Regions from separate parts of the Homo sapiens genome. Here all the other regions are linked to region 1. Evidence: fine-mapped expression QTL. A gene starts in region 1. Each other region holds a variant in brackets. All regions are shown on one strand. Distances are between the middles of the regions.

What was found. PIP is the estimated chance that this variant, and not a neighbour inherited with it, causes the effect.
Region 2: its variant is fine-mapped to the expression of GUCY1B1 in whole blood (INTERVAL, PIP above 0.99).
Region 3: its variant is fine-mapped to the expression of GUCY1B1 in aorta (GTEx, PIP above 0.99).
Region 4: its variant is fine-mapped to the expression of GUCY1B1 in fibroblasts (GTEx, PIP above 0.99).

Annotation. Positions count from the first base shown.
Region 1 is chr4:155,754,927-155,763,389 of GRCh38, forward strand. It overlaps GUCY1B1 (guanylate cyclase 1 soluble subunit beta 1), which reads left to right and starts at 4,095. Exons shown (of 14, transcript NM_000857.5): 1 at 4,095-4,217; 2 at 4,861-4,934. The coding sequence starts at 4,215. It overlaps LOC105377506 (a long non-coding RNA gene), which reads right to left and starts at 3,489. Exons shown (of 8, transcript XR_007058484.1): 1 at 3,264-3,489. RefSeq lists silencers at 4,273-4,422, 4,873-5,142.
Region 2 is chr4:155,677,252-155,685,714 of GRCh38, forward strand. All of the region lies in intron 2 of GUCY1A1 (guanylate cyclase 1 soluble subunit alpha 1), which reads left to right. Among named protein-coding and RNA genes, the nearest start is that of GUCY1A1, 15 kb to the left of the region's middle. The variant T/C (reference allele first, on the strand shown) is at 4,838.
Region 3 is chr4:155,465,844-155,474,306 of GRCh38, forward strand. No RefSeq gene overlaps it. Among named protein-coding and RNA genes, the nearest start is that of MAP9, 93 kb to the left of the region's middle. The variant A/G (reference allele first, on the strand shown) is at 4,312.
Region 4 is chr4:155,601,476-155,609,938 of GRCh38, forward strand. No RefSeq gene overlaps it. Among named protein-coding and RNA genes, the nearest start is that of GUCY1A1, 61 kb to the right of the region's middle. The variant A/C (reference allele first, on the strand shown) is at 3,387.

The sequences.
Region 1 (8,463 bases):
CTTACAGTTCATTGGCAAGTTAACAATAAATCTGAATGTCACTTCTTTAGGAATCTGAATTCTTGGATCTCTCTTTGTTCTATTGATCTAGAATCACATCACCGAATGTGTCATTTAGAATTTGCTTTTCTCTTTGCTTGTAAGTATTCTGAATTCCTTGCTTGAAGTATTGAGTGACTATATTAGCAAAAATAATGACAACAGATGTGATTATTGTGCGACTAACCAAGACCAGCAGCAGAAGCTTCACAAAGAATCAATATTCGGCTCTTAGCCACAGAGATTAAAGAGGCACATGAATATAAAGCAAATCATTGTATAAGAAATAGTTGAAATGAAATGACATGCTGCTCCATAAAATGATCTAAAAATGGAAGCCACAGAAAAAACTGGCAAAACACCAGAGCTTTGACAAACACATGCACAGACCTGGGAACACCCCCAAATATATATGTATCTTCCTTTATCCTTAATCAAAGGTTTCTAATTTTCACATTAACTAGCAAAGCCTTGAAAACAATGATTACAACACTTTATTTATTTATTTATTTTTGAGACGGAGTCTCGCTCTGTCACTCAGGCTGGAGTGCAGTGGCGCAATCTGGGCTCACTGCAAGCTCCGCCTCCCAGGTTCACGCCATTCTTCTGCCTCAGCCTCCCAAGTAGCTGGGACTACAGGAGACCGCCACCACGCCCAGCCAATTTTTTGTTATTTTTAGTAGAGACGGGGTTTCACCGTGTTAGCCTGGATGGTCTCGATCTCCTGACCTCGTGATCCACCCGCCTCGGCCTCCCAAAGTGCTGGGATTACAGGCGTGAGCCACCGCGCCCGGCCGATTACAATACTTTTAATACTTAACTTACCAAAGTAATTTATTTTTATTCGCTGAAAATGTGAGTCACTTCAGCTGACATTTCTGAAAGCCACATATTGCCTTTTTACTTATTGTTCATTCATTAGACTGAACTTCATGTTGATTTTAGGGCTGGCTAAGCCATTCCCTAAGCTCTTCTTTTTCATCTTTAACTGATCCTCCTCAGCTTGGGGCATACATACAAGAATGCAATGCATTGTTCAGAGAATATAGCATAATCTACTTCCTGATATGATTCCTATGCTACTTGGCCAGCAGTGATGACAACAGGTAGGGAGCTTTTATAGAAGAATGGTGACCCCTCTTTTGAGATCCTCTACAGCTGGCAGGCATCCTTCTGTCCCTGAACATCACAGCCTGTGTAATATCTTGTAGGCCAAACAAAAGTCAGTAAATGTTTAGTGTCTAGAACTTCTTTTAGATTCAGAATGAATATAAGACAATTGGAAAATAAAACAGTAAAAACATTTACAAATGCAAAAATGTGTTGGACAAAAACAACAACAAGTGCAAAAAGTTATTGGACAAAAGGGAAAGTGAGGGTAGAAGAACTGAAATAGAGAGAAAGAGACAGAGAGAAAGGGACATTGGCAGAAATGCTCATTATTCATTTCCTCTCATATCTTTCTCTAAGTGAGCTTTCCTCATTTTTCATTCCCAGAGAACAATTCAATCTCCTTATCTTTTGCCTATGTAAAGTTTAAGGTGGAGGACACCACAACACACCGTAAACCAGAGAGCATGGGTCCATTGCTGCTCAAAGGTGAACAGATAAGAGACATAGTTTTTTTTTTTAAGTTTTTTTAGCAAGTTAAAAGTTATTTTATGTATATTATTAAAAAGTCAAATAACAACAGATTCTGGCAAGGTTATAGAGAAAAGGGAACTCTTATATAGTGCTGGTGAGAATGTAAATTAGTTCAGCCATTGTGGAAAGCAGTTTGGTGATTTCGCAAAGAACTTAAAACAGAAACATCATTTGACCCAGCAATCTCATTATTGAGTATATACCCAAAGGAGTATAAATCATTCTACCATAAAGGCACATGCATGCATATACGTTCATCACAGCACTAGTCACATGGAATGAAATAAACTATTCACAAAATGAATACTTGTGAATATATGTGAATTAATATGTGAATTCACTATATGCAAAGACATGGACTCAATCTAGATGTCCATCAGTGGTAGACTGGATAGAGAATGTGGTACATATATACCATGGAATACTATGCAGACATCAAAAAGAATGAGATCATGTCCTTTGCATCAACATGGACGGAGCTGGAGACTATTATCCTATGTAAATTAACAGAAACAGAAAACCAAATACCACATGTTCTCACTTGCAAGTGGGAGCTAAACACGGAGTACACATGAACACAAAGAAGGGGACAATGACCACTGGGGCCTACTTGAGGATGGAAGGTGGGAAGAGGGTGAGGATCAAAAAACTATTTGTTGGGTACCATGCTTAGTGCTTGGGTGACAAAGTAATCTGTACACCAAACCCCCAAGACATGTAATTGGCCTATATAACAAACCTGCATATGTGCCCCTGAAACTAAAATAAAAGTTAAAAAAAATTCAGTTATGTAACAGTAAAGAAAATTCATCTGTGTAGAAAAATAATCAAAAGATACAGAAAGTTATAAAAAGTAAGAGTCATGGCCATTCCAGCCACTGGTTCTAATTACAGACGATAGCCATATCAACACTTCCTGTGTTTCCTCCCAAACCATTATTCTTACAGCAACATGTATGTGCCTGTGTTATTACCCACATAGCACCTTACTGTATACTAACTCTAAAAAATGGAAAATGATTACATTCTTGTGGTGTTTTGTAAACCTGACAATACTTTTCTGCATCATCATTTTCTAGTCACCCTCCTGCTTTTTCATGGTTGTTTAATGTGCCATTTTAATGGTTCAAAATTAGTGGTTAATTGTTGTTAAATAATGATTAATGTTTTAATAGTTGTTTAAAACAAGGTGTTAGATTGTATGAAAGGCTGTAATCTATTTACTCATTCCACCAATAATGGAAATTTTTAAAGTAATTTGTTGTTTTGTTTGTTTGCTACATGCCACTATTTCTGTATCAGTTTCCTTCATCATAGCTCTCTCGGTGCTGATGTCAGCACAATCTTATTGTTTTGACATTTTTCTCTAACCATATTGAGACTGTTCTCACAACAAAATATGCACATCTTAAAATACCATCTGGCTTCTCAGGTCCACTTGAGACTGGTGACCTCACTTTTGACCTTGCCCTAAAAGTCAACTGGAGTCCATATACCTCAGGTACAAACAGCTTTAATAAGCTGCCACTTCCTGTTCCTCTCATCTTCTCTCTATGGCAGGACTCAGAGCATTAACTAACCTAAGGGCCTGGTAGAATGTAAGCTGGAGGTAGAGTAGTTAAAGTCTGTGCATTTTGTACTGGTCATTTTCCAGTTCGTCTGTTGCTAAGAAACAGCAACAGAGGCCCGCTCTAGAGGGTTACAAACTCCCTGGAATTATGGCTCCCGGACATGGTGTAGGGAAAGGTGTCCCACAGGGATCAAGCCTAGAATATCGCTGGATCTTGTACAGTTTAGTAAAGGGCAGGACTGGATTTAACATAACGTCCACCAAACTACATTACTGAAAATTTTTGGTGCTTCACTCAACTAGTCTCATTGACTAGAAGTGAAAATATGTTTTTCTCAATATTACCAGCTTTAAATTTGCCATAAACTGTTGTGGGACCAAGCCACAGAGGAAATGTTTTTCCGCTAGACAAAGATAAGCATGAGGATGCCAGCAACAGAGGATATTCCTTTTAAGGTCTGTCCATTGCAAAGTACACACGTACACGCTCACACAACAAACACGCCCTGTTCCCTTTTGCTTGTGTTAACCACTGAGGGCAGATCTCTGAATAATAATACATTTAGTGGGTCCACAAGAGCTGCATTTCCTCTGCTCCAGAATTCATGCAAGGAGCACGGCTGGGGCTTCTCCACTGTCATTGTTATGGCCTCAAATGAAGGCCTTGTCACCAGGCGGGGGCGGGAAGGCACTGGAGCGCAGCAGCATTGAGAGCATCCGAATTCCCTCCTCTGTCCCTGATTGGTTGAAGAACTGGGGAGCACCGACCAGCCCCCTGCGGCTCGACTCGCCATTGGCTGGGAAGAGGTGGCAATCAGGGCGGGCCAAGGCGGCTGTTCTCGCTCCAGCTCGATGCTGCCTCCCCGGCCCGGTTGCGCTGTAGCCGCTGCCGCCTCTGCCTGGGTCCCTTCGGCCGTACCTCTGCGTGGGGGCTGCCTCCCCGGCTCCCGGTGCAGACACCATGGTAAGTGCTCTCAGCCGGGTGCGGCCCGAACCTCACCCCTCCTCGGCCGGCCTGGCAGCGAGGGAACTGGCCGCGCAGCCGGAGCTTGGCTCGGGGGCCCTGGGCGCTCACTGCCGGCCACGGGAGCAGCCTCACTCCTTGCCCGCGCCCAGTCAGGGGAGGTGGGAACGCCGCGAGTCGTGGCGGGGGCGATCGGTGCCTTTGCTTCCCAGGCGGGTTTGCCGCTCCACACCGCAGCTTCCTGAGCTCGGGAAGGGGAGGTGCGGCGGAGGCGTGGGGTCTTCCCGGCTCTGGCCGGCCCCACCAGTGTGGGAGGCTGAGCGCCAGCGGAAGGGAAGGCTCCGGGTTCGCGTCCCCGCGCTGCCCCCGATGCCCAGCCTCTCCCGGAGCGGTGACAGGTGAGGAGGGTGGGAAGATAGCGTGGGGGTGGGGCGGATGGTGACGGGGAGAATCCACCAGGGATTGGGGGGTTGCGCCCCCACGATCCGACTCCTTTAGTGCATAGTACCCCTAAGGGAGAGGAGTCAGGGGCGGGGTGAAAGGTTAAGCCAGCGCCATGGGAGCAGAGGCAGCAGCCTCGCCCCCAAGCCGCTTCTCAGGTACAGCGGGTCCCTGACGCTCAAGTCTCTCCCTGTCCCCGCAGTACGGATTTGTGAATCACGCCCTGGAGTTGCTGGTGATCCGCAATTACGGCCCCGAGGTGTGGGAAGACATCAAGTAAGTGGCCGGCTACCCTGGCTGTGGCCCAGGTCGGCGCCCAGTGTGGGAGGCCCCCCGCGCCTCGCCTGGTCCTCAGCCTGCTGGCCGGGTCGCGGGCGCGCATCCTTGGAGGTGCCTCCGCGCCTCGCTCCCGGCTCGCTGCAGCTGCGCTCCCACGCTCCGGGACTGGAACCAGGAGGGGAGGGGCGGCTGGGGCGGGGCTGCGAGGGCGAGAACCGCGGAAAGGAGCCCCTAGGGGTCACCACGGCTTCCCGACCCGGCCTGAGCGTGGGAACGCGCTGCCGGCGCTCCCAGGCTCAGCAGGCCGGGCAGCTCCCACGCGTGCAGAGCCCCGAGGGACCACACGGGCCTCCGCGAGGTTCCTGCGCCCGGAGGCCTTAGAAACAAACGGAAGACTTTGGCTCCTTTATGATTTACACACCTGGCGTAAGTTAGGCCTTTTTGGTATGCTGAAACACGCGGGAGATTATTTCTTGAGCAACAGTGAATTAAGCGCATTTATTCATTTTTAAATAAAGTGAAAATTGGAAGTTTTTTGTTTTCCCCAAATCCCACTGCCCACCCCCCCCGCCCCAACCCCTATCCCCCGTTTTTTTCTACTGTGTTGAAGACTTAACAGTTCTAGGAGGCATTCTACTTTCAGTCCTGGAGCTTTGAGCCCAGTACTGGGGATGTGAACGGAAATACCACACCCACCTGAGAGTTTAAACCTGTTGGAATGACTGATGGGTCAGCATGTCTGCAGGCAGGTTGACTATTTCACTCTAATAAAGTTGTCTCTCCTTTTTCCTCTCACTCTCAAAAAATTTGCATTTAACTTATGGTACAGCTGACCACCACCAACTAGCTACTCCAAAACCCTATTTATGGATTTTCATATTAGAGCAACAGTCAGACTATCACATTGTAACAAAGGTGGAAGGAAGGGTTTCCTGGGTGGGCAGATGGGAATACACTGTTATTATTCACTCTGATTTCCTGTACTTAGTGATTTCATTTTGTTGTCTCAGGTAGGTGAGGCTTCCATGCTGTTTTTCCCTAAGCACATTACAATTATTAGCAATCAATTCTAACAGGCCTTATTATGCAGTTACATGATGGTGATTTCTCATAACGATCTGTTTCCATAGAAATGACCAGGGTTATATATTAAGCACGAAAATGTAACTTTTCTTTCCCCTGGATCTGTATCACTGAGCGTTTCTTTCATGTTTCAGAAACCATTTGTATTATCCACAGGGCATATTACCTACATATTATAAACAGAAGCCGAGATTTGGCAAGTATGTGGTTGAATCCAATGAGAACATAGGCACCAAAAGTTACTTTAGGATTTGAATTTTCTGGCCATCTTAATACCATTATAATTTTTATTTTGCTTAGTAGACAGATATCAACAAGGCAGACATCAAAAAAAGATTGTTAACAGTATAACTTAACTACCGAATTATTTTTAAGCCACTTCCTTTGTAAATTTATAAATGCTATATATATATATATTCTCCATATGATGCTTTTGCATCTGTAAGATAGAAATTCCCAAATTTGCTGGTAGATATGCTATGACAATGAATATGCTTAGAATTTTTAGAGCAGAATAAAAGATGGCTATTATGATTAAACAGTCATTATGTAATTTAACCAGATTTAGATTGTATATCCTAGCCATTATCAGTTTAGATCACTGTTAAATACAGAGATGAAAAATAATACTTTATAGAGTAATGTATCAGACATTTTAAAAAGTTAAAATTATCCAGAGATTTGTTTATATTGCTTATATTTTCCCAGAGGAAGTCCAAATATGTAAAGATTCAATTGACGAGAATTTAACTCTGCAAAATCAAGCTGAGAATATTGTTCCATTCTACTTTAAAAAATTATTTATTAACTTACTAATTTATCTTTAAGTAGCTTCCAACAGTATTCATAATTTGTCTAAAGGATAAAAATTCCAATCATCCACAACACAATTTTTCTGGTAAAAATGAAACAAGTTATATTGGTCTTTTCTTAAATAAAATTGCCTCAAGGTTATGCCCCTGCAAGGGAAAAAGTGTTAGTCACACTGGTGTTGGTAATCCAGGTGTTAGTGTTGATTCTTTATTTGTCTAAGCATCTTTTGGTGGACCCCAGCTGATCTTGGGTGTGGTTTAGTGTCTGGGCTAGAGAACATGGTTGAACTCTCTGCACTGAGGGCATTAAAGCTGCTCCTTGGTTTCCAACCCAATACCCCTGAGTAATTACTAAATGCTCCCTGGGAGAGCATTTGCTTTCCACAGAAAAGAATCTTGCTGCCTGGGGAGAGGGGAGGAGAACCTGGAGGAGTGTAATTGAAAAATGCTCCTTGGGTGATTCTGGTTCCTCCTCCCCTCCCTACCCTCTGCTTCAGGGAATATTAAAGCAGTCATTGGTCCAAGATGCTTTCAGTTTTAACTTTTATAAGAAATTGAATATAAGAGGAAAAACATTTTTTTTTGTCTCAGTAAGTACCAAACTCTTATTTTTTCTTTTGGTCTTTGAGAAACTATCTAAATTGATGTTTATACAAATTTACATTATACTTTTTTGCTTCACTAGGAAATGGCCATCCATCCTTCATGAGAAAGGATGGGAAAAGATGCCAAACATTTAATGACAAATAAAACCCTAAGTAACAGATTCCAGACAGCAGACAGAAAATTCTAAGTGGATAAGGGCCAAAAATGCTTCATTGTAAACTCAGTATCCACTTACACTCTTACCAACAATATAACCATTTCACAAAAGCTTTGAATTCCTCTTAAGAAGAAGAAAAATTGTCTAGACCAAGGGCCAGCAAACTTTCTCTTAAAGGGCCAGATAGTAAATGTTTTAGGTGTTACAGGCCAAGGTAAAACTGAGGATATTATGTAGGAATCAATATAACTATTAAAAATATAACCACTTAAAAATATTAAAACCATTGTTAGCTCTTGGACCAGGAAAACGCAAACAAACAACCAAACCAGACAAAGTGGGCTACATGTGATCCATGGGCTATAGTTTGATGACCTCTGATTTAGACCATAACAAATGTGAAAAAGCAAAAGAGACCTCTGAATCCATTTCAAAGTTTTTTTTGTTGATTTCATTTCAATATTCAAATAGTCCTTTTAAGAGGCTATGATTTCTAAGTAATGACAAAAAAATTATCAGGGTAGAAAATAAATAAAGTTAGGAGTGATACATCCTAGAAAAGCACCTAAATACTTGATTTCCCATCTCTGTTATCCTTCCATCAGCCCTGACTAAACTCATCATTGCGTCAAATTACTGGGTTTAATTTTAGATTTTTTCTCTGCTTTCTTTCCATATTTTTTCTGGGTAGCAGCGGAGGGAAGCAGTTAGAGACAGGTCTTGCTGTGTGCCCAAGCTGGTCTCAAACTCCTGTCATCAAGTGATCCTCTTGACTCGGCCTCCCAAAGTATTGGATTATATGCACCACCACACCCAGCCCAACTTTAGATTTTTTAACCTCACTGAAACATACAAATTAGGAAGATAG
Region 2 (8,463 bases), 78 kb before region 1:
ATCCTGAAGAATGCTTGGGAATGGATCCTTTACTCATACATGATTTTGTTCATCAGCTTATATGTAGGATCACAGTCATTTGGAAAATATTGGTCCATTGAAATTTATACATTTTCCAAATGGTGACACACTTCATTATACAGTGTCAAAAGTTAGCCTTCATGACTATCACCACTGATCTCATCAGGAAGTTTTAAGTATTGGATAGCTATAAGCTCACAATGGCAGTCCTAGATAGTGCAGCCGTGGATTGAAAAAGTGTTCTAGTTTCCTCTTTTTAAGCCAAGAATCCATCCTTAAATATAAGAAGAAAATCAGGCCGGGCACCGTGGCTCACACTTGTAATCCCAGCACTTTGGGAGGCCAAGGTGGGCAGATCACCTGAGGTCAGGAGTTCGAGACCAGCCTGGTCAAACATGGTGAAACCCCATCTCTATGAAAAATACAAAAATTAGCCGGGCATGGTGGTGGGTGCCTGTAATCCCAGCTACTTTGGAAACTGAGGCAGGAGAACTGTTTGAACCTGGGAGGCGGAGGTTGCAGTGAGCCAAGTTCGTGCCACTGTACTCCAGCCTGACTGACAGAGCGAGATTCCATTTCAAAAATATATATATATGTATATATATGAAAAAATCAATAGACTTGGTCTTAGAATAAATATTAAAATCTAAAATAATAAGTTTATATAAAAAATTAGCAAAGTGGAATTACTTCTTATGTTTACATTTAAGACCAAGAAAAACTTCAAGATTTCAAAATAATAAATTATTAGACAATAATGAAATTACAAACATTATAACAAGTATACTGATAGTTAGGAAAAATAATAGAGTTCTGAGAACAAACTGCGTTAATCTCCAAAAATGTACACTTATACTTTAAACCTACTAATTTAGAAAATTCTACACAAATATAAATTCCATTAGAATGATTACATCATCACATGTCATGTAGTCTCTGGAGAACTCTGCTGCAATCTGTGAGAGAATGAGAATGAAAAAGGTGCATAATATTAGAATATTGTTATGAAAATAGTTCTGACCATGCATATCCTCTGAAAAGGTCTCAGGACATCCCCAAGAGTTTGCAAACCACATTTCGAGAAATGCTGCTTTAACTCAAATGTGTCTTGAACAAGGTAAACATAAAGGTTTTTACAATAATTTTATATCAAGTCCAGTTTATAATAGTGAACATTTCTTAGGTACATTTTACATTCCAAGCATTAATACAACTGCATTACTTTAATCAAATCCCTTGAGGAATGTTCTATTCTCATCACTGTTCTACAGATGAAAAAATGGATGATGCACAGAGTAGATAAGTCACTTGCCTAATGTCATACATTTAATTAATAATGGAACCGGTATTTGTAGCCAGGGAGGGTTCACACTTTTACTTACTATGGTAATTACTATGGTAACCTTTCTGCCCACATTGCAAGTTTTCCTGATGATTTGTGAATTACCCAAGTTTTGCTTATAAACAATAGCATTTGTTGAATGTCTAGCATTTTAAGAAACTGCCAAACTGTTTTCCATTCCCACCAGTAATCTGTGAGATTTCCAGTTATTCCACATTGCCAATAACTCTTGACATTGCTGAACTCTAGAATTTTAGCCATTCTAATGGGTTTTTGTTTAATAACTAATAATATTGAGCATATGAAGAAATGTTTATGACTGTTTATATACCTTCTTTAATGATTGTCTATTCAGATGTTTTGCCCATTTTAAAATGGAATTGTTTATTTTCTTACTGAGTTGGAAAACTGTATATTCTGAATTAAACTCCCTTGCTGTTGTGTGTTACATATATTTTCTTCTAGTATATGACTTGTGTTTTTGTTTATGTAATAATGTCTTTTGAAGAGCCAAAGTATTTTTTTTATTTTGATGAAGTCCACTTTATCATGCTCTTTTTAAATATTTCATGTTTTTTTTTTCAAATTTAAGCATCTTTGCTTCAAACCTGGTCACAAAGAATTTCTTTTATGTTTTCTTCTGTAAGTTTTATAGTTGTAACTTTCGTACTTAGGTTTACGATTTGTCGTAGTCTGTTTATTTTGCTATAAAAGAATACCCGAAGTTGGATAATTTATTTACAAAAGAGGTTTATTTGGCTCAATGTTCTGCAGGCTGTGCAGGAAGCATGGCACCAGCATTTGCTTCTAGTGAGAGCATGAGGCTGCTTCCACTCATGGCAGAAGGTGAAGGGGAGCCAGCGTGTGCAGAGATTACTGAGAGAGAGAGGAAGCGAGGGAGAGAGAGAGGAGACACCAGGCTTTTGTGTAACAGCCAGCTCTTGAAGGAACTAGTAGAGCAAGAACTCACTGGCTATCGTGAGAACGGTGCCAAGTCATTCATGAGGGATCTGCCCAATGACTCAAACATCTCCCATTTCACTCCACATTCAACACTGAAGATTAGATTTCAACATAAAGTTTGGAAGGTTCGAATATCCAAACCATGGCATGGTCCATTAAGATTTAATTTTTGTATATGGTATGATGTGTGGATAAAAGTTTATTTCTATTTCTATATGGATTTCCAGTTGTTCCAATGGCATTTTTATTAAAAAACAAACAAACATATTTTCTTTCCTGATTTTATTGCCTTGACACCTTTGTTGTAAACACAATTGTGGATCTCTATCTCATTGATCTCTTTGTCACCCCTTTCAAACTGATACCTCACTTTCTTGATTACTTTAACTTTTTAAGTTTTGAAGCAGGTATATAAGTCCTTCAGTGCTATTTTTTCTTCTTTAATATTAATTTGGCTATCCTATGTCATCAATGAAATCTTAGCCTCATTTTGTCAATTTTTACTAAAATGATGGCTGAGATGTTGATTGGAATTGCATTGAATCTATAAACCAGTTTAGAGAAAATTTGTACCTTAACAATATTATACATGGTATATATCTCTCCATATATTTAGACCTTCCTTAATTTATCTCGTGAATGTTCGTAGTTTTCAGTGTAAAAGTCTTGTAAGCCTTTGGTTAGATTTATTGCTAAGTATTTATTAACAGTATCATAAATGAGTTTTTAAAATAATTATTTTCCAGTATTTGTGGCTAGTACAGAAGTTATAATGGAATTTTGTATATCAGTCTTGTATCCTGAAACATTGCTTAATTTACTTCTTAGTTCTAGTTATTTTGTATATCCACTGGGAATTCCTACATGAACAATTTTAAGTATATGTGTGTGTGTGTGTGTGTGTGTGCACATGCATGTGTATGATCCTTGAACAACACAGGGGTTGGGGCACTGACACTCCTGCACAGTCAACAATCCACATAAAAGTTTTGACTCCTCAAAAACTTAACTACTAATAGCTTACTGGTGACTGGAAGCTTTACCGATAACATAAACAGTTGATTGACATGTATTATATACTGTATTCTTAAAATAAAGTAAGCTAGAGAAAAGAAAATGTTACAAAGAAAATCATAAAGGAAGAGAAAATATATTTACCATTTATTAAGTGCAAGTGGGTCATTATAAAAAATCTTCACCCTCGTTGTCTTCATTTTGAGCAGGAGGAGGAAGAAGAAGATAAGGGGTTGGTTTTGCTACATCTGGGATGGCAGAGGCAGAAGAAAATTTGCATATGAGTGGACCCATGGAGTTTGAATCTGTGTTGTTCAAGGGTCGATTGGATACACACACACACACACACACACACATGCACACACACACACACATGCACACACACACACACGTGCACATAAACCTGCAACCTTTTGGCCTTTTGTTTAACTGATTGCAATGGCTAGGACCTAACTTCTGTACAATATTGATTAGAAGTGGTGAGAGCAGGCATCTTTGCTTGGTCCTGAATAATAGTGGAAAAGTGTTCAGTCTTTCATCATCAAGTATGACTCAATAATTATAGTTTTCATAGATGCTTTCTGATGGGTTAAAAAAATTATGATTGCAGAGCTTGTCTCACTTGTTCTCATTATTAGTGTTGGAGTGGGAGTCTCTTGTGACTTTCTGCAATTTAACCAGAAGTCAAAGACCCTGTACTTTGAGCTAACTTTTGTGCTCTGTATAGTAAGTATTTCTATTTACAGAAAGCTACAAATATAGGTAACAAAAGAAAAGGATTTCATATCCTCACAATCCTTCTTTCAAACTTGCTGTTTCCCAATCCACAGATCTTAATGTAATCTGTACTCAGTTACAGTGTAGTACTTTATCACTATAACTCCTTATTTTCTTCCACTTTCAGTCTACTATTCTTATTCAAAATTTTGCCTTAAAAGCCATAAACATCTTTCTAATTTAAAAATCAAATGATATTTTCTCAGTCCTCCTTACCCTCTTCAGACTTGTGACATACACTTCTTTTCGAACACGTGTCCTCTTTCATATTCATTCTCATTGTACTTTTCTAATTGCTGCTTCTCTGTCATAGTCATAATACTTTCTCCAGTCCTTAAACATGAGGATTCCCTGGAGTTCTAAATTTGGTTATCTTCTCTCTATATATGTAGCCTCTTGATCTTAAACAGTTTTAGTTAAACTCCTGACTATAATGGTTTCTGCTATGGGGAGGAGCACAAATTCATCTCTAATCTGTTACACATTTCTGAAGTAAATACTCCGATTTTCAAAAGCACCTCCACCCTAGATTCCCTGCTACCTCAGTTCAAGATCCATGTATCTAAAACAAATTCAACATCCTTTCTCTCAGGCCTACTGCTCTGTTTCTGTTACCTGTTTCCATGAACGGTGCTATATCTTTCTACACAAAACTTCAGAGTCATTCTATTCCTCAGATCTAGTGAGTTGCCACATCATGCCAACTTTAATTTTATAATA[T/C]CTCTAGTAGCCATCTTTTCCTGCCTCTTTCCCACAATTTCCTTCATTTCTTGCTTTCACTTACACTGTTCTTTCTCTGTGGCGTGCCCCTTGCCAAAATCTTAATTTTCAGAACTTAGTCATTTAAAAAAATAAGCTCAAATTCTGTACATTCCAAGAAGGCTTCCCTGATGATTCTTTTGCCACCACCGCCTAAATCTGATATTTCTTATAAACAGTTTTAACTCTCTATCTTTACTTATTCTCCCTTTTTATTGTAGCCATTAGCTATTTAATAAAATTTCTTATATATACATAAGAAAATTCGACTGGGCACGGTGGCTCATGCCTGTAATTCCAGCACTTTGGGAGGCTGAGCGGGGCGGATCACGAGGTTAGGAGTTCGAGCCTGACCAACATGGTGAAACCCTGTCTCTACTAAAAATACAAAAGCATTAGCTGGGCGTGGTGGTGTGTGCCTGTAATCCCAACTACACAGGAGGCTGAGGCCGGAGAATCGCTTGAAACCGGGAGGTGGAGGTTGCAGTGAGCCGAGATCATGCCACTGCACTCCAGCCTGGGCAATAGAGTGAGACTCCATCTCAAAAGAAAAAAAAAGAAAAGAAAATTCAGTGTGTGTGTGTGTGTGTGTGTGTGTGTGTATATACCCCACTCATATCAGGCTTTGAAGAAAATTAAAGAAAGGAATATTTTTTGTCCTTTTATGAAACAGTAAATTTTGATTGAATTATAAATGGATCTACTGACAACTCATTTTAAAATGTATTTCCAATAAGCAAGACATTTTAGAAACTCTGATTTAGCTTTCTTTTATTTGTATTTTATGTTTTTTCTGGTTCATGTTTTGCCCCCTATATTGATTATAGCTAATAGCCTAATATTAATATATTTTATTGAGATTAGTTAATATTAATTGAGTGGCCAAATGATGGATGATTCTGTGCTGAGTGTTTCTGATAAGGCAGTCAAGTATAGAAACATGGATGGTTTTTCATTTAGCTGATTTCACAGCAAAGTGCAAAAGGAGGATAGGAAATTACATGAGCATTGTTGATTTCTTTATCAAGCACAGACCTTGGAAATGCATAAACTCTATGTATAGTGAGATTTCACTTTTTCTGAAAAAAGTTGAAAAACAACACTAATAATAAGTAAAATAGAAAAAGAGAATATATAGGAAAACAAAAAAAATGGCTTGTCAAATTGTGTGTCATTTACAGAGGTGTGTTTGTGTCTTCACATACAAAGAATCCAGGGAAAATAAATGGAAAAAAATTGAATAAATTTAATAATAACAATTTAGTTAGCCTATCTATGTCACTTCCGTGTTTATACCAGATGACTCAGAGCCAGTAGTTCTTTCAATTTCAGCAGAAAATAATTATTGGCAGTCCCAAAGTTGGATAAACTGTGACCTGCATTGGCTGGTTTGATTAAGGCTGGAAAATAGCAAACTTGATTAAGTGACAAAGACAAGATAATGAGGAAAGTTATTTAGAAAATGTGTTTAGAGATTTGAAAAGGGACTAAAAGATAGTTTCTCAAGAAAGTGCAAAAGAAGATGAGAAAATTATGAAAAAGAGTCTGGGGCAACATTTTAGGAACTGTAGACAGTGAAAGCAATTTTATAATGTATGTTAATATTAGCATGATATATAGACGAAAGGTAATCTTCTGATTGGTCTGAGATGAAGTAGTTATGTTAACCCTCAAAAGATGATGAAGTGTGAAATTTGAATTCAGATAACTAAGTTTTCAAGTTTTCTCAAAGTATTCCCTGCAGTGGCTGGTGGTCCACAAAGAAAGGAGGGCTTCTCAGCATTTTCAGTAGAGGAGGTCATCAGGGTATATTGGGTGAACTCAATACACCTATACACCTCCTGAGCTTTGGGGTTTGAGCCACATCACTGAAGTCTGCACTCTGTCATCTGCAAATGGAAGGGACTGCAATAAATAATCTCTAACTCCTCTTCCAGTTCTAAACTCCTATTATGCAAATGACTCTGTCTTTATATTGACTTTTATGTAAGAGGTACTGAAATGAATAGGAAAAATTGTTTGGTATTTCTTTAAATTTTCTCTATTTTGAATCAATTAGATGGCAGAGGCATTAAAAGAATATAGTTGTGGGTTTGGATTTAATGGGAAAAGACTCAGCCTTTCTCAATATGGACTTTGCAAGCATCCAAATATATACCTGCAAAGTATATGTTCAGAAGTCCAAATTCATTTCTGGTAATGATTCTTCTAAACTAATCATTATGTAAAAACTTGGCAGAATTGAGTTTGTGTTGGAATTTGCCACGTCTTTTGCTAACCTGATTCCAGCATAAGCATCAAGGATCTGTGTCCCAGTGTTATGACAAAAGTTCATTTCCTGTCTTAAGAATCAGAAAGAGCTTTACTGCTGGTCAGAAAACTAGAAAAGGTACCTGACTACCCATCAATTACTAATACCTTAGTAGCCTGGTCCCCTGGGCCACCTCCAAAGAAACATCTGCTGAGTCTCCAGGCCTCGAATCTCACACTTCACTTTTATGAGCCTTTTCTCTGGGGTCATAAAAGAAAATTTCTCTGAGAAACGTACTTTGCCAAAGTTTATCCCTTGGCTTTGTTGTAAAGATCCTTTAAATGTGGCAGAGACACCAACAGCCTTTTTAGCTGCCTTTCAATTCTTCTCTGATGCCTAAAACTAGAGAGGCTCAAAGTGAAGTTTTCAAAGGGAGTCTCCTTAGAGTTCACTGGGACCCTGGAAGCATCTCTCATGCCTTCATTTTGGGAATATCTAAACTTCATTACCTTAATTGACATGCCCAACAACCTGATCTTTCATTTTATTCTGTACACTAATTTAACAGATACAATTTAGTCTTTGTTTTCCCAGATTACATTTTTTAGTAGGGGAACTTGAATAATAATCACCATGATATGTCAAAAGCTCCTGGTTTCTCAAGGCAGCTCCACAGCAGGAGCTCTGTAGTTAGATAGGGTTGGGTTCATTTCCTGTTTCTGCCACTCACCAGCTATGGCCAAGGACAAGTTACATGATCGATGTTTCAGATTCTTCTTGTGTAAAAAATACTAAAATACACAAACACACACTCACACACCCTTCCCATAAGATTGTTGTGAAGATTAAATAAGATAATGTATGTGATGTCCCCAACAGCTCTTTAAAGCAGGAGTCAGTCAACAGACCCCATCAAGGACAAGATAGTAGCTACTTAAGGCTTTGCCAGTCATGTGACCTCCATAGCAGTTACTCAACTGCACAGTTTGAACACAGTAGCCATAGACAGTGCATAAATGAGTGGGTGTGGTTGTGCTCCAATAAAAGTTTATTTATGGACATAGAAATTTAGGTCTCATATAATGCTCATGTATCACTGAGCTCCTGGTGTTCTCCTGCATGACAGCTTAGCTTTGTCTGACCCTCTCAGCCCTGCTCCAGCTTCCGCAGCTCCTCCACCGCCTGAACCGCCTCCATTGATGCATCTGTTCTTGTTCTCCTTGTGTTTTTTTTTTTTTTTTTTTTTTTTCTCTTTGCTGTTCTTTCTGTAGCCAGGCCTATACTTCTCCATTAATGTGTTCTTGATTAGGTTTGGTAAGATTCTATCTCCAGCATT
Region 3 (8,463 bases), 290 kb before region 1:
GACCTTTTTAGGGTTTGCTGAAGATGGCGGTATATAGGCTGGGGGCAAGAGGTGGTGAGGAGCACCAGGGTTTATTGATTATAGAACAAGCTCCTTTAGAGGGATATAAAGCACCGCCAAGTCCTTTGAGTTTTAAGCTGTTGCTTGTGGTACTCTGGTGAATGGTTTTGTTAATATAACTATTAGAGTTTAGGGCTAAGCATAGTGGTGTATCTAATCCAAGTTTGGATTTTAGCTATTGTGTCTTCAGGATATTAAAGTCACTTTCATAGTATATTTTATGTCAGCTGGAGTTTTTTACAGCTTAGATGGAGCTTAGTTTTATTGAGGGTAGACCTTAAACACTCTTTACGCCAAGTTCTATTAGCTCGAGTTAATCTTATGGCCGCAGTGGCTGGCACAAAATTAACCAACCCTAAATATTAGTATGGCTTGGTCAAACTTTCATTTATTACTAAGGATTTATCACTGCTGTTTCCCTTGGGGATATGGTTGAGCAAAGTGTTTTGAGCTGCATTCATGCATGTTTGATACCTGCTCCTTTTGAGCCGGTGATCCAGAGGGCATTTTCACTGGGGTGGGGATGCTTGCATGTGTAATCCTACTAAGAGCTAATGAAAAGGCCAGATTGTTTATCTGTTTATCTACTAAAAGACATCTTGGTTGCTCTGATGTTTTCGCAAAAATTATAAATGAAGCTACTAAAAACATCCATGTGCAGGTTTTTGTGTAGATACATAGTAATTTTTAAGAGTGTAAAATTGTCAAAAATTAATCAAAGCTTGTAAGAAACATTGATCTAGTATGTCTATTGTCCCAGGTAACGCTTGTATTTCACGGCCTTCTTTCCTTTTTTTGAACCAAAGCAGAGGATTTGGTAGGTCTCTCAAGCATTATGACTAAGAATATGAGAGAAGTAGATTTTATTAATGAAGATTTTCATACTTATCTGAAGCATTTTTTCTGCATTTTCTGCTGAAGCATAAAATGACTGTGAGAGGAAGCCCTTTTGCCTTGAACTAAACCTCAGGAAGGCCAATGATCTGTGATAAATACCCGATTTGCCTGTCCTTCTTGTAGCTTCCAGAATGAGAACAGAAAAGCTAGAACCGGAAAGAGACTCAGCAGATACCCACTCCACCTCATTTGTTTTGTAAATATAGGAACTGCAATCCAGAAAGGCTATGTGTTTCCTGTAAAGTCACATGACGAAGTTGGCACATCTCAATGGGAACCCAGTTTCACTGACCCACTGCCTCTTCCTTTTGTACCATATGTCTTGAAATAGCTTTAGTTTTAAAATTTCATTATTGCTTTCTGACTTTATAATGGTGTTGACCTTAATCTCATTGCAATTAAATGACTTCTTCTTTCACATGATTCCTTGTGGGTAGAATTACACACAATTACTGCAGTACAGCATAAATTCCAGAGCTACTGTTAACTTGAAATGATGAGTAAGTACAGGATGACCTTTGCTGATCAAATATAGAAACAGAAGAGGTACCCCAGATTGTGAAGAGGGTAAAGTTGCTCAACATATTCATGTGTATCTATATATGTTCAGGCCTGCAAACTGTGCAAGCTGTGGGGGTCACTGTGAGTTCACATGTTTGATTAACTTATACAACTTTTACCTTGACTCTTTTTTTTTTTTTTTTTTGAGACAGAGTCTCGCTCTGTCACCCAGGCCAGAATGCAGTGGTGCAATCTTGGCTCACTGCAACCTCCGCCTCCTGGGTTCAAATGATTCTCCTGCTTCAGCCTCCCGAGTAGCTGGGGTAGTACAGATACGTGCCACCACACCTGGCTAATTTTTTGTATTTTTAGTAGAGATGGGGTTTCACCATGTCAGCCAGGATGGTCTCGATCTCCTGACCTTGTGAGCTTCCCGCCTTGGCCTCCCAAAGTGCTAGGATACCTTGACTCTTAAGTTTTCCATTTCCTTTCTTATTTTTCTTCCATGACACAATAAAGACTAAAATACAAATCCTCTGCAGAAGCTATATCACATAAAGCATATGCATTATTCTTGAAAAATTATGCAATTTTTATCATTGAGAATAGTATGTTGAAAATAAACTCATTTAGTTAAAATAGGGATAATCACTTCAGCTAAAGATTTCTTTCTATACAAACCAATTTTGTTGTCTTATGGTCACAAATTGGATTTCTAACCTGGAGCAAATTCTCACAGTCATGTAATTGATCATAAAGTAAATTCGAAAAGTGAGAAAAATTAGAATGCATCTAATGCTATGACTAGAAACAAACTCAGAAATTTATCTCCCAGTGTTTATATGACCATAGTAAAAGCTCTGTACACATGTGACTGAGTGTAACCATTAGGCAAATGTTGAGGATGCAACACTAAATGATGTGCACATTTGACATTCAAACTTTTGGTTTTATTGGTATTGACTATCAAATAATTTAACTCAGAAGATAAGTTTACTTTGAAAATTAAAAATCCCAATGTCTTGTGGGCATGTGTGTGCATGTGTGAGTATGCAGTGTGTATACTGGAAAATTGCCAGTGTTTCACCGTATGTTCTCAAAAACCAGTTATTTTGAATAGCTGAAAAAAAGCATCCCTGCACCTTCAGGTAGTCAAGTGATCTTATTATTATACTGCATCTGATAAATCACTTGGTGCTATTGTGGGCACAAGTATATAAAAAAAACTGGCACTCCTCCTACCTTCCTTTGCCAACACATAAATACCCATAGAAACTCAATATTATCTTAGGATGAAGACCAACACATTTTCTCTGAGATTATTTATACTACTTATATGGCCAAAAATTTTTTTTTGATAAATATCCTTGGTTATTTTTAGTGATCAAGAGGCTCACTCTGTTCTCTACAGAAATTCTCTCTTCAGAGCTCAGATATCTCTGGTGGGTTTCTCATACATTGAAATGGGGCAGTAACACTTTTTCCCATTAGTGGAGTTCAGTATAAGGCTATTGCATCTGGACCCCATTGCAGAAGGATCAGTTATCCAGATGACAAATGTACCGTTTTATAAGGCAGTCTCCCTCAGAGTTTTCACTAAAGTTAGAGTTATAGAGATGCTTTGAGTACCAGTTATTTATGCTTCTCTGTCTTTCTTCATCAATAATTATGTATGTCTATATTTAATATTAATGAAGGTGTATAGTTTCATTTCCCTTTTTTTTGGAGAAAAAGTCTTACTTTGTCACCCAGGCTGGAGTGCAGTAGTGGCTCAACCCTGGCTCACTACAACCTCCACCTCCCAGGCTCAAGTGATCCTCCTACCTCAGCCTCCTGAGTAGCTGGGACTACAGGCACATGGCACCATGCCTGGCCAATTTTTTGTATTTTTGGTAGAGATGGGGTTTCACCATGTTGCCCAGGCTGGGCTCGAACTCCTGAGCTCAAGCAATCCACCTGCCTCGGCCTCCCAAAGTGCTGGAATTACAGGTGTGAGCCACCACGCCCAGCCTGAAGGTGTGTAATTTCTACAAGGACCAGAAAATGATGCATCCAGCCTATTGGGTGGTTGTATCCAAGACTATGCTATTTCAATCAGTGGAATTATTGTTTAGGGTCTTCAGAACTCTTAAACACGTCAATAAACTTGAAGATAAATACAACATTAAAATGAATTATAAAATTTTTATCCTTTTTCATTCATTCAAGTACTTATTGTCTACTTACTTTGGGATAATTACTGTCATAGGCACTACAGATCAAATATAGATTTTTTTTTAAAGACATGGTCTCTGCTCTCAAGGAGCTGACAGTCTAATAAAATTCAGAGGCCCCCATGGCTAGGAATCAAGCTTGTCAGACTGCTTGGTTAGCTTTTTAGTTCGTGTTTTGGGGAATTATCTTAATACTTTGGCTATATCAAGGCTTAGTTAGAAGAGGTATCTTGGAGCAGGAAAAGTAAACAAGACTGAATTCAGTGCATTTATTTTATAATTTACCAAGGTCTAGCCCTACCAATATTCTCACTACTGTCTTTGCCCTAAAGTTGGTCAGAAGATATTAAAAGCCAGAGGATAGAAATATATACATATACATGTATAGAGCTGTACTCTACTCAGGACACAATTGTAAGAGGATATCATTCCATCTGTAAAACTATTTTCTTCAGAAAAGCAAGACAACACATTCACTGAAGGTCTTTGACATAAAAAAGAAGTCCTCTAAGGAAAGTTTGATGGTCTGTAATATTTTTATTCACTGTTTGAAAGCTATTATAGCAGTCCCAAACAGGTCCCAAAAGGAGGGGGAACAACGACTTAAGTATCACCATTGCTACAGCAGAGACACATATGA[A/G]TACCACTCGCAGTATTTAGCCTAAAAAACCATGGCATGTGTTTCTTCCCTCTCTAGCCCCGCCCATGTCCACCTCTTCTTTGTGGCTATCAATCTTCCTTAATGCAATCATTTAGGTAAAATGAGCTGCTTTGCAGCTCCACATGTTGGTGTTTACAGCTCTTTATGAGCCAATAGGATAAATATCTATGGACATTGCAATATCTCTGCTTGGATGGACGTTGATGATATTGAAGAAAACGGTAAGTTACTGAGGGGAAATCAATCATGTGTACATATATGTTGATGTCTTGCTGAAGTGAAATCATTAGGCAAGAAGTGAATAAACACCAGGACTCCCTTTATGCTTCTAGACTTTGCATAAAATGAAGCAGGGTGATAATAATGGCAGTAGTAGTGGCCAGGAAGAAGGGAAGAAGGAAAGATCAGACAATGGTTTTAACAAGACAAGCAACAGTTTCAAAGAGAGCATATGCTTACTCAAGGGGGAATTATTGTTAGGTTTGGATTCCAGGCAAAAAAATTATCTTCCCTCCAAAAGGCTGTGGAATAATCATAAACACCTCCATCCTCTCCTCTCACACCATCTCAATGCAGAGACTCTGTTCTTGGGAACCTGGGAAGCCTGCAACCCAGGCTCTCCAAATATTGGGCTTCAAGAAACACAGGACCTCTTGAAATTATAGTCAAAATATGTGTGTGTGAATGTGCATTTTCCACTGAAAAGGTTTATAACTTTCATTAACTTCTCACAAAACACTCTGAGTCTCAAAGTTCAAAACTACTGCTATTGATAAAACATTGCTTTCAGAGAACACACATATAAAAAGGATTCAGTAGGGATCAGGAGTAGTACAATATTACCTAACCTGATATTTTCAGAATATAATTTCCACATAAATCACTGGATAAAGAGAAATTACTTAGAGACTGCCCTTTGCACAAAACATAAACAACTCCTTAAACTCCATACTAAGAGTTCTGAAGCTGGAAGTAGTTACCTTAGAGCAGTGGTCATGAGATGAGCAATTTGGAGCCTAGAAAATTAGATTTAAAGTTGCCAGATCACTGAGTCCCTTAGTGGCTCTTCATTTTTGTGGTGTCGTTTTTTTTTTCTTTTTTGAGACAGAGTTTCACTCAGTCGCCCTGGCTGGAGTGCAATGGCTTGATCTCGGCTCACTGCAACCCCCTCCTCCTGGGGTCAAGTGATTCTCCCACCTCAGCCTCCCGAGTAGCTGGGATTAAAGGCATCCACCAACATGCCCGACTAATTTTTGTATTTTTAGTAGTAACAGGGTTTCACCATGTTGGGCAGGCTTGTCTTGAACTCCTGACCTCAGGTGATCCACCCACCTCAGCCTCCCAAAGTGCTGGGATTACAGGTGTGAGTGACCATGCCTGGCCATTTTTGTGTTTTAAGGTATCATTTGTTGGGCACCTACCATATGCCAGTAATTGAACTGGACACTATATGTACATTAATTTACACATTTCATTTTCATGGGTAACACAATGTTTAATAAGCTTGTTCCTGATTCTTGGGTGTTTTTCCAGAGACCCTAAAAGCCAAGAATAAGTAAACAATCAATGGCAAGCACTTCCACAGCACAAAGCAAGGTTCTGGTTCACTGATACAAGACAGACTACAAAACAGTAAAAGCAAATCTTCATTAGCCAATCACTCACCTCCAACCTTCATGAGAGAGCTAAAAAGGCCAGTGATTTTGGTGGGGATCATTTCGGAGTGAGGTGCTGATGTGCCTTTGACATTCCCTGACTCACCACCACCCTTCCCCATAGAGGAAGATGGTGGAGAGCTTCACTCTCACCTGTACCAAGTGAAAAAGAGAGGCTTCAGGAACATTCCTTAGAGGGTTTAGCATGTGTTCCGTAAGGCTGGGGAGTTCCAGGCTGAGGCTATTCTTGCTAGGAGAAATCTAAGGTAGGAGGCTGTCTGTAGCAGAAAGATCAAGGGGATGTGGTACGGAGAGCAAGCCACACTTGTATTCATGGCATGGGTCTTTGCCATGGACCAGTTGTGGGCTTTATGGAAGAGAGGTAGCCTGGGGTTGTTTGGACAGGGACTCTACCTGAGAGGACTATCTGGAGATGTGATAAATATCACAGAGGAAAGAATCCCCAGAAGTTCAAGTGTTGAATGGAGAAACATAAATGCCCTTATAGAGGAGAGGCGTGGCCTGCCACACTAGAAGTGCATTCTTATGTCCTCGGTGTGGAATCTGAGAGTCTGCTTTGGACAACATGTCTAATGGCCAATACCACTTGACAACTGTATCCATCAGGTGAGACATGTTTCTCTCTTATCTTTCTTATTTTCTACATACCATGTGGGAATATACCAAAGCACTGTCACATAAGTAGGGAAGGAGGTAAGGCAAGGAAGAAAAAGCCCACTTTGCCCCCTTTTTTTGTGTAGGCTTTCAGTCTTGCAGCAGGTTTGAATTGGTGCTGGAGAGAAGAGTAATTGGACAAGAGCTGAAGGCTTGTTATTGTGGTGGATAAAACTAGATTGGACTTTTAGATAATCTAAAAATAATGTGACTATATACCCTGATTTGCATAGGCCATCTTTGATTTCACCTGATGCCCTTGTGTAGATAATAAATAGCCATCCTTTCACTTTCAACAATGAGATGATTTGGATGATAATTTATACGGTCACTCAATCCCAGAGCGATTCTGAAATTTATGGTACCTGATTGGAAATTTCATCCACTGATGGGAGAAACAAGCGAATATTCCAGTTACAAAGTGGAGATGGTAGGAAAGGATTGTTTCCTTTTTATACATAAAGTAATGTAAGAGGACACTGAATGAGAACAAAGGGGGAAATATGGTCATAGTGTATCATTAGAAAATATTTATAGTAAACTTTATAATTATCTTTCTAGATTGCAAATGCAGTCCTCCTCAAGAGACAGTCTTTATATCTTGATCTTATCTCTAGGTAAATATTATTTTCTATGGTTACATAGAGATATCAAGATCTATTGGAAACTCTTGATCATTACAATCAAGATTCTGGTGACCAAAATGGACAAAAACATGTAAGCAGATTGTGTTACACAATTTTTATCCAGAGGAGTTATTTCTATCCAGATGCATTTTTCATTACATAAGAAGACAAGAAAACCGAGAAAAACTCTAAAAAATAAATTCTTGCTCAGCTAAATTATGCTTAGAAAATATCCTGTCATTTCAACTAAAAATATCTTGTTTTTTATGTATGGCTATTTCCCTGAAAATGACATTAAAAAATCATGGGAAATATATAAATATTTTAGTCGTATATTGCATAGTAAAAGTATAATTTATCATAGAAACCACTCACTTCTATCAAAATAGTCTGAGGAAACAGGTGTAGAATAGATTATATTCCATTTAAAACATTGCTTGCTTTATTGTTTTTAAATAGGCTTATGTGAAACTCCACCCGCTGGGAAAAAATGAAATCAGGATGAATCATACATCCAAAGGTCATTGATCTAAAAATATAGGTCTTGTAAAATGAATAAACATATTCTATTTTGTGAAAGCATCAAGTGAGAGGATTTTAGGATCCTTCCAAATCATTGAAGTCTCCCAGGTTGTTAATTAATTTATCAGTAACAGAGGAGGCAGCCACTCTAGTGCCCTGTCCTCCTGGGGAAGCAGAGTAGATAAAAGGTGATCCTGCTGAGGAAGGATAGAGATCAAGGGCCTTAACCTCTCCCCAGGAGAGAGAGAGAAGCATATGTGCAAAACAGACAGGAAAGCTCAGCCCTCTCTTGATTGCTTCCATTGAAAGCAGACTTAGTAGGTCCTCAGGAAATACTGCCTATGATGATGAGAAGCATGCAACACTTCCGGGCCAGAACACAAAATTGACCAATGAAAACAGAACTAGTATTTGTTGTCATCCAAACATTAAACAAAATTCTGAAAAGAAATGAAAAACAGACATTTCTCATGTAGAGCCTTCCACAGTTTTTATGGAGAGGGAGAATGATATTAAGAATACCAGGGGTCTACCTGTGTTGCTGGAGGGAGCTAACAGGAATGTACTATTTGCCAAGTGTATTTTTCTTTTTAAATTTTTTAAACTGAGCCCTTAATCAGCAGACAACTTTCTTTGATAAGTATTAGAAGGTA
Region 4 (8,463 bases), 150 kb before region 1:
TGAGTGAGAACATATGATGTTTGGTTTTTCATTCCTGAGTTACTTCACTTAGAATAATGGTCTCCATTTCCATCTAGGTTGCTGCAAATGCCATTATTTCATTCCTTTTATGGCTGAGTAGTATTCCATAGTGTGTGTGTGTGTGTGTGTGTGTGTGTGTGTGTGTGTGTATGTGTGTGTGTATATATACCACAATTGATTTATCTACTTGTTGATTGATGGGCATTTGTACTGGTTTTATATTTTTGCAATTGCGAATTGTGCCGCTATAAACATGCTTGTGTAAGTATCTTTTTCTTTCTTTTTTGTACAATGACTTCTTTTCCTCTCGGTAAATATCCAGTGGTGGGATTGCTGGATCAAATGGTAGTTCTACTTTTAGTTCTTTAAGGAATCTCCACACTATTTTCCACAGTGATTGTATTAGTTTACATTCCCACCAGCAGTGTAAAAGTGTTCCCTTTTCACCACATCCCCACCAACATCTATTATTTTTTTGATTATGGCCCTTCTTGCAGGAATAAGGTGGTATCGCATTGTGGTTTTTTGTTGTTGTTGTTTTTTGAGACAAAGTCTCACTCTGTCACCCAGGCTAGAGTACAGTGGCACGATCTCAGCTCACTGCAGCCTCTGCCTCCTGGGTTCTTCTTAAACTAACTCTCCTCATATAAAAGGCACTAGGTTACACGTTCGATTTAAGTCTTTTGAAAAATCGGTTCCAGCAGTGTATCATGGTATTAGAATACTAAGCATTATTTCTAGAGATATTGCTGGTGACTTTTCCTCCAGATTTAAAGGAGCGATCTCAACCCCTGCCTCAACTCACAGCTCCTTGAAGTGCTGGAGAAGACAATCTCAACCACATCTGTCCTGGCCCACCATACCTCTGGCCTATAAGAGACTATTATCTGGCCTCCAACCACTTATCCCTGCTAGTCTGCCCTCTGTAATTATGCCTCAGTCTGATCATTGTCCTTATTGTTCTCCAACCTGCCAGCTTCCTTCTTGCCTTAGGGCCTTGCTGCTCTCTCTGCCTCTGATGTTCTTCCCCAGATCCTAGTAGAGCAGTTATCCAGCCTAAGGAATGCCACCAGTACTTTGTATTACATTGATTGAAACCAGCTCTTCCAGATTTGAGAGTTCACAGACAGTCAAGATTTCAAAAGCTACAGAAACCTTTGAGTGTCAGGCTGAAAGAATGACAGACTTGAGGCCAGGACAGATGAGAACATTTCTTTCTTGTGAGTTATCAATCAAGTATTAATTGCCCTGTCCTTTCCCATCATCGTAACTGACTTTTAAAAAAATCGTTTACAGTAATTTTTCACAAGAGAATTCCCATAGAGGTAGCAAAAAGTCATAATAATGTCACATAATGTAAGAAATAGAAGACATTATCTAGGCTAAAGACCTCACTTTCAGGTCCCTGTGCACAGGCCTTTCCTGTGAGAGCGGTGGAGACAGGCTCTGATGCAAATTCTGTTTCTCCTGTGGAGATCTGTTATCTAGAACACCCACCCAAAGCCCATCAGAACCTACTTGCCCTTGTCAGGACAACAAGGGGAAAGGGAGAAACTAAAACCCTCATAACCATCTAAAACTGTAGATTATACACATGACACAGAGAGCAAAAGAGAGTATGAGAAATATAAAGAAATCCTGCTCTTCCAGATTTGAGAGTTCATAGACAGTTAAGATTCCAAGAGTTACAGAGACCACTGAGCGTCAGGCTGAAAGCAGAATGAAAGGCTTGAGGCCAGGACAGATGAGAAGGATTCTTTCTTGAGAGTTATCGACCAAGTATTAATTTTTATCAATAGAGTTAACGGATCGTGGAAGAAAAGATATTTCCAAAAGAATATTATGTTTACAGAAGTATATCATGTATCATAATCACATCTGTAGCTTCAACTTTTTATGAAAATAAAAATGAAACTCAGAACTGGTACATGTGGTATAAGTGGGCATGCTGCATCCTGTCAGCCAATACTTGTTTGGTTAAAGGAAGCTAAATTGGAATCGCTGGACCAGATTCCATTTTCCCTTTGCTTCTGCCCGTGGGCTTTCCTCAGTTGATGGTGATTAGGCCTGACGTGAACAGCTCATAAGAGGGGATGTGGGTGATTCAACAGGGGCAGCTAAGGCAGAAGTGTCCAGGTCCCTGCTCAGAGCCAAAGATCCCACACTGGAGACAGGGCTAGGAATGAAAGAACTCTTTGTTCTCACGCACCAGTGTGTGGGGCAGGGGGACGGGAAAGGTAGTAGACTTACCATTCTCAAGTGCTTGTGTTACTGCGTGGTTGTATTAGGTGCTTTGAGAGTTCTCTCTCATTTATCTTCACAATAACTCTAAGTGGAAAATCAAGCTCAGAGGTCCTAAGTCTCATGCCCCAAATTCCACAGCATAGAAATGATAGACCTGGTATTCAAACCTACTGGTGTCTGGCTCTTGTCCTTTCCTTTTCTATTTTTTTTTTTTTTTTTTTTTGAGACAGAGTTTTGCTCTTTTGCCCAGGCTGGAGCGAAGTGGAGCGATCTCGGCTCACTGCAACCTCTGCCCCCCGGGTTCAAGTAATTCTCCTGCCTCAGCCTCTCGAGTAGCTGGGATTACAGGTGCGTGCCACCACACCCGGCTAATTTTTGTATTTTTAGTAAAGACGGGGTTTCACCATCTTGGCCAGGCTGGTCCTGAACTCCTGACCTCACCTGCCTTGGCTTCCCAAAGTGCTAGGATTACAGGCATGAGCCACTGTGCCCAGCCGCTTTTGCCCTTTTCTTACTCATTACTGTCCCTGAAGGACAGGACAAGGAATGCACACGGACAGTTTTTGCATCTTCAATGCCAATTATAACATGGTCTCAATAAATAGTTATTAGAGGAGTGAAAGAAGGAAGAAAGGATTCAAGGAAGAAAGGAGGGAGGAACAAGGATACTTAGTGAAGAAAATACAGAAGATAGCAGAAAAACCATCAGGGCATCCTTAACCAAAGGTAGAACCATGCAAGAGTCCGATCAAATTATATTTGTTTTTCTCATGATGAAGACCTTCTCATTCTTTGCCTTAGCTCAGCAAATTTTTGTTGTTGTCTATATCATTTATTTCATTACAAATTGCAATTTGATGATTTTCTAGTTACCACATTTCTTTTATATGTATTAGCTGGAATGCTTCTGAAAAAAAAATCTTTGTATTATCAACTAATACTTTTGGTTACCTTGAAAATCTTTTTGGAAGTGAAAAGCATAAAAAGTTTAGAATGATCATGCTTTCAAGGTGATTGGGATCAGAAAAATGTTTTATTCTTGATCTTTGGAGCAAGCATAACCACCATCACTTCAAGTACACTGGCCACGACCCAACAGTTACTCCACGTCTCTGACTAAG[A/C]CTTCAGGATTCTTAGAACAAAAACCACAGAAACTTGGGCATTTTCCTAAATATGTCTTAGGTTTTGAGCCATTGCCAGACATGTTAAATTATTTAATGTAATTCATAGAGAGTATATAATTATGAACTTGGCAAAGCTAGAAGAGATAAGTAAACAGAGAGAGTTTTTAATATAATATACTCTCTGATAGTGAGCTATCTCACATTCTGCAATATATTTATAGAGAGGAGCGCCACACCTTCATAACTACATAGCAGGACACATGTACCCTGGTCAGGCAGTTTCTCCTTCTCAGTCTAACCTTGCATGTCACAAATTGAAGCTAACAATTTCATATGATTCCTCCATCTCATCTCTACCCTCAGCCCCAAAGGAGTCTCCCATGTTCCCAAGACAGGAATTGGAATATCTAGATAATAGGGGAGGCCCATTGAAGAGTTATTTCAGACAGATTTCCTGTCAGGCACTGGATTTGCTCACATGCCTGGTCAGATTATTTTCCTTAATCAGTGTTTTCAATTTGTGGGAAAAGAAAACCAGTGTCAGCAAATTGCCAATGGAGATGTTCTTTTGAATTACTTACTAAGGATCGTTTGATTAGAGCAGAAGCAATGGACCCTGTGAAATATATGTTCTGGAAACCAATTTTGTTGTGGAGACTTTTTCCAGTTGAGTTGCTGTTTGTGTGTAGATAGTTCTTACTGGAACACAACCAAAATATTTTTAACACCCTGTTAATTCTAAGACAACACTTCTCAATGTTGCATATATAAAGATTTGGTGGAATATGTACTCTTAAACCTGTAGAAACATATCTATGACTTTTTCCTTTTACATTTTCTCTTGAAACTCTTATAGTTTAAAAATGCCAACATAAATGATTTCTATGTATATATATATCCATTAAAATAATTATGTACTTGTAACTTATTTTTTCTAAATATCTGCTTTCAACAGAGAACAAACTAACTTCATTTACTTTTTTCCCTGATCTTTTATAACATAAACCATTACTTGAATTAATTAAAATAATGGCTATATTCTATTATAGGTATTAAAAAGAAGTTTTTTTGGGTATGAAATATTTTGAGATTTGTTATTTAAATTATGATCTATTCATAGGATGGGATAGTATCCAACCATTGATAATGATAATAATAATAGCTCATAAATATAGTGCTTACTTTGTGCCAGATGTAATACATGCTTTACATATAGTAACTTATTTACTTATCACAGCAACCTTTTGAATTGAGAAAACTGAGGTACAGAAAGGATAAGGGACTTGCGTAATGTCACACAATAGGTAAATCACACATTGGGACCTAAATCCAGGTAGTTCGGCTCCAAAGTCCGGGGGTAAAACACTTCATCATGTTGCTTCCCATTTGAAATCACATTGCAGATAAATGAGGACCCCTATAAATATGTTTACAATCTACTGTTAAGGGAACAAAGCAGTATTGGACCAATTGTATTACATACACTGATATGTGTGTATCAGTTGTGATATATACATCTACATATGTATATATATTTTGGATATATGTATGTATACGTGTATACACACACATAAATACAAACACATAGATACACACAGAAAGAAAATTGGAAGGTTATATTATACACTAAAAGTTTTACAGAAGTAAGCTATTGGTAATGAGATTACCAGTGATTTTTTTTAGGATGCTTCATATTTTCCAAATATTTATCATAACAATGTTACTATTTTCATAATTTTTAAAGTGCTAGTTATTTATTTATTTATTTGAGGTGGAGTTTTGCTTTGTCCAGGCTGGAGTGCAGTGGCATGATCTCAGCTCACTGCAACCTCTGCCTTCCGGGTTCATGCGATTCTTCTGCCTCAGACTCCCAAGCAGCTGGGACTACAGGCGCACGCCACCACGCCCAGCTAATTTTTGTATTTTTAGTACAGACGAGGTTTCACCGTATTGGCCAGGCTGGTCTCAAACTCCTGACCTCGTGATCCAACTGCCTCGGCCTCCCAAAGTGCTGGGATTACAGGCATGAGCCACCGCGCCCAGGCTAAAGTGCTGTTTAAAACTATAATCTTCCATGAAAGGACTACATACTCTTTTGCTGGTACTTTAGATGTTCAAATACCCAAATGTTCTTAGAATAAAATAATATATATATTATAGCCCCAAAACTTGTTAATTTCCTTTCCAAACCCCTTTTAACTTGCTAACTAAAGGATGTTAAGCACTGTGTGGAGAGAACCCAATGTGGAATTATTCTTTTCCCAACACTCCACCCTTCAGATTTCTCTCAGACGTCTTGGCCTTTTCATTGCTCCTGTCCATCAGGGTAAGGCTTCCATTGCCCTTTCTCCAGCAGGTAGCACCACTTCAACCCCCTAATATATCAAAGGAAACTTCACAGGCTGCATAGCTATATGGTCCAATGTGTTTCCTAACCATACAAGATATTTAGATCTAATTTAATTATCACTAAATAAAATGAAGAATTCAGTTCCTCTGTCACACTAGCCACATTTCAAGTGTTTAATAGCCACGTGTTATGGGCAGCTGCCTTGTTAGACAGAGCAGATACAGAACATTTCATCATTGCAGAAAGTTTTTCGGACAGTGCTGTTCTAGAGGCATGGTGAATCATGACTATTCTCTTCCCCGGCCATTTATGCTGCCTGGCTGGGAAAGTGAATATTCAATTCCTGGGATGTGTTTGCTTGCTCTGGGATCCACAGATTGCTTTTTTTCATTCTTCTCTCTCTCTCTGCTTCTGTTAGTCTTGCCAGAGCATCTAGGAATAGCAGAGCTCTTCCACAGCAATGGTTAATCTCTTGCCAATGGTCCATATGGGCTCTGGAGATGAGATTTACATTTCCTTGCAGCATAACTTTTGGCATTTATTGTGTTAAAACACCATCTGCTTTCTTCTCAGTTTTGAGTTCCATTATAGAGCACTATTCACTTAAACCTTAAAGGAAACATGTCCAATCACATTGAAGAGATATTATCATATTTTTGATCTGGGCAACTGAAAAGATAGTATTTTTGAATATAAAGTGTCTAGGTATATCAAAGATAAGAAATCTGAGAGCTAAAGAGAAGATCTTGGAGCTATCATTTTGGGACTCGTTAGTTTGTAGTTAACAATGGAAGCTGTTGTAATTTATGTGATTATCTACAATAAGGGGAACATTAGTCTCTCGTGAATTTTGTAAAAAAGAAAGAAGAGGATGTGTACAATTATATGCCTAAGACATAATTTTAAAAGTGGTAAAAATAAAGGGTTAGTGCCTGAATCAGTAAAGAACTGTGTTCAGCAACTCATGACAGTGATAAAATTTGAGGGGCTTATGCAAATTAGAGATTTATTTCTCAGGTAATAAAATCAGAGGCAGGTATTCCAAGGTTGGTTCAGCACCTCTGTGAAATCCTCAGGGACCCAAGTTTTGCTCTTCTTATCGCTTAATTCCTTTCTTCAAAATTACAAGATAGTTATTGGAATTGTGATTGTCACCCACATTGTAGCAGACATTCCTGCAGGTGACTCATCACAGTCTCCATGTTCTGGTACTCATGCTTTGTAGAATCCCCATTGAGCATGGGCAGGACATGTAATTTGCTTCTAAGCAACAGAACATGGCAAAGATGATGGGATGCCACTGCCATAGTTATGTTACATTATGTCACACTCTGTCTGGCTAGCACACTGACCCTAGAGTCCTCCCCCTCAACCTGCCATGAAGTGAGCAGCCACACTGGAGAAGTCCACCTGGCAAGGAACTGTGGGTAGCTTCTAGGAGCTGAGGATGTCCTCCAGCCCGAAACTGAAACCCTCAGGCCTGTAGTTACAAGGAAATGAACTCTGCCAACAACCCAAGGGAGCTTGGAAGAAGATCCTCCCCCTGTAAACCTCTAGAGAGACTGCAGCCCCAGCCAACATCTGGACTGAAGCCTGGGAAGACTTTGAAGTTGAAAACCGGCTAAGCTGTGTCTGGCCTCCACACCCACAAACTGGGAGATAATAAATGTATATTATTTTAAGCCACTAAGTTTGTAATAATTTGCTATGCAGAAAAGAAAACTAATATACCTATATTCCAGAAAGAGAGAGAAGACCAGGGGAATGAGCCACAAGAGGCAAACATCAGACGTTTTTGCCAGTTTTAAAGACCTTTCCTGGATATCCACTGAAGGCCTTTCGTTTATGTTTCATTGAACATCTATCTATATCTATCTTTCATTACAAGTGAGGTTGATAAATGAAATCTTACTAAGACACAATATCTCAATGAATAAATTCAGAATTCTGTTACCGGAGAGGGAAAATATGTTTTAAAATATATATTGGTAGACGACTGGCTCTGTCTGCCCCAGCCTTCATTTATTACTTAAATAACCCCTTTTTGCAGTCATGAATGTTATACCGTTACCCTTGCCACCTCCACCCATCTAGGCCACTAATACCTTATAATTTATTCCTTGTCTATGGCTAACAGAATTTTCCAAAGATTACCCTGACTTCTTTTTTTTTTTTTTTTTGCAATGTAACCTTGGGATGTTCCCATGTCATACTAGAGTCTGTTTCTTTACATTCTTAAATTGTTTCAGGCTTTTTGACTATTTTAATCAATAGAATACAGTGAAAGTATCACCTACCATTTCCGGATGTAACCCTTAGTTCATCTGGCTCTTTCTGCTTCTTGCCTCTTAGAAGACAGTCACCATGAAAGAAGGCTGACTACCCTGAGGCCTCTTGTTATGAGAAGCCCAAGTCACATGGAGAGGCCATGAGAAGGCACTATAGCTGACAGTCCCAGGAAAGCCCCCAGCCAATCACTGCAGGAAAGACTCCAAGAAGACATGCTCAACTTAGCCTAGTTATCACACTAAACTATGAGAGGTAATAATAAATTATTAAGCCACTGAATTCTTGGGTTATTACTAGTAACTTGTAACTGAATATTTGTTCACTGTCATTCTCTTCAAGTCTTGCCTTGCTAGTTGAGAATATCAGTTTCATTCTTGGCAATTCATGCAATATTACTGTTTCCCAGTTCCTGCTTCTATCCTCTAGTGATCTTAT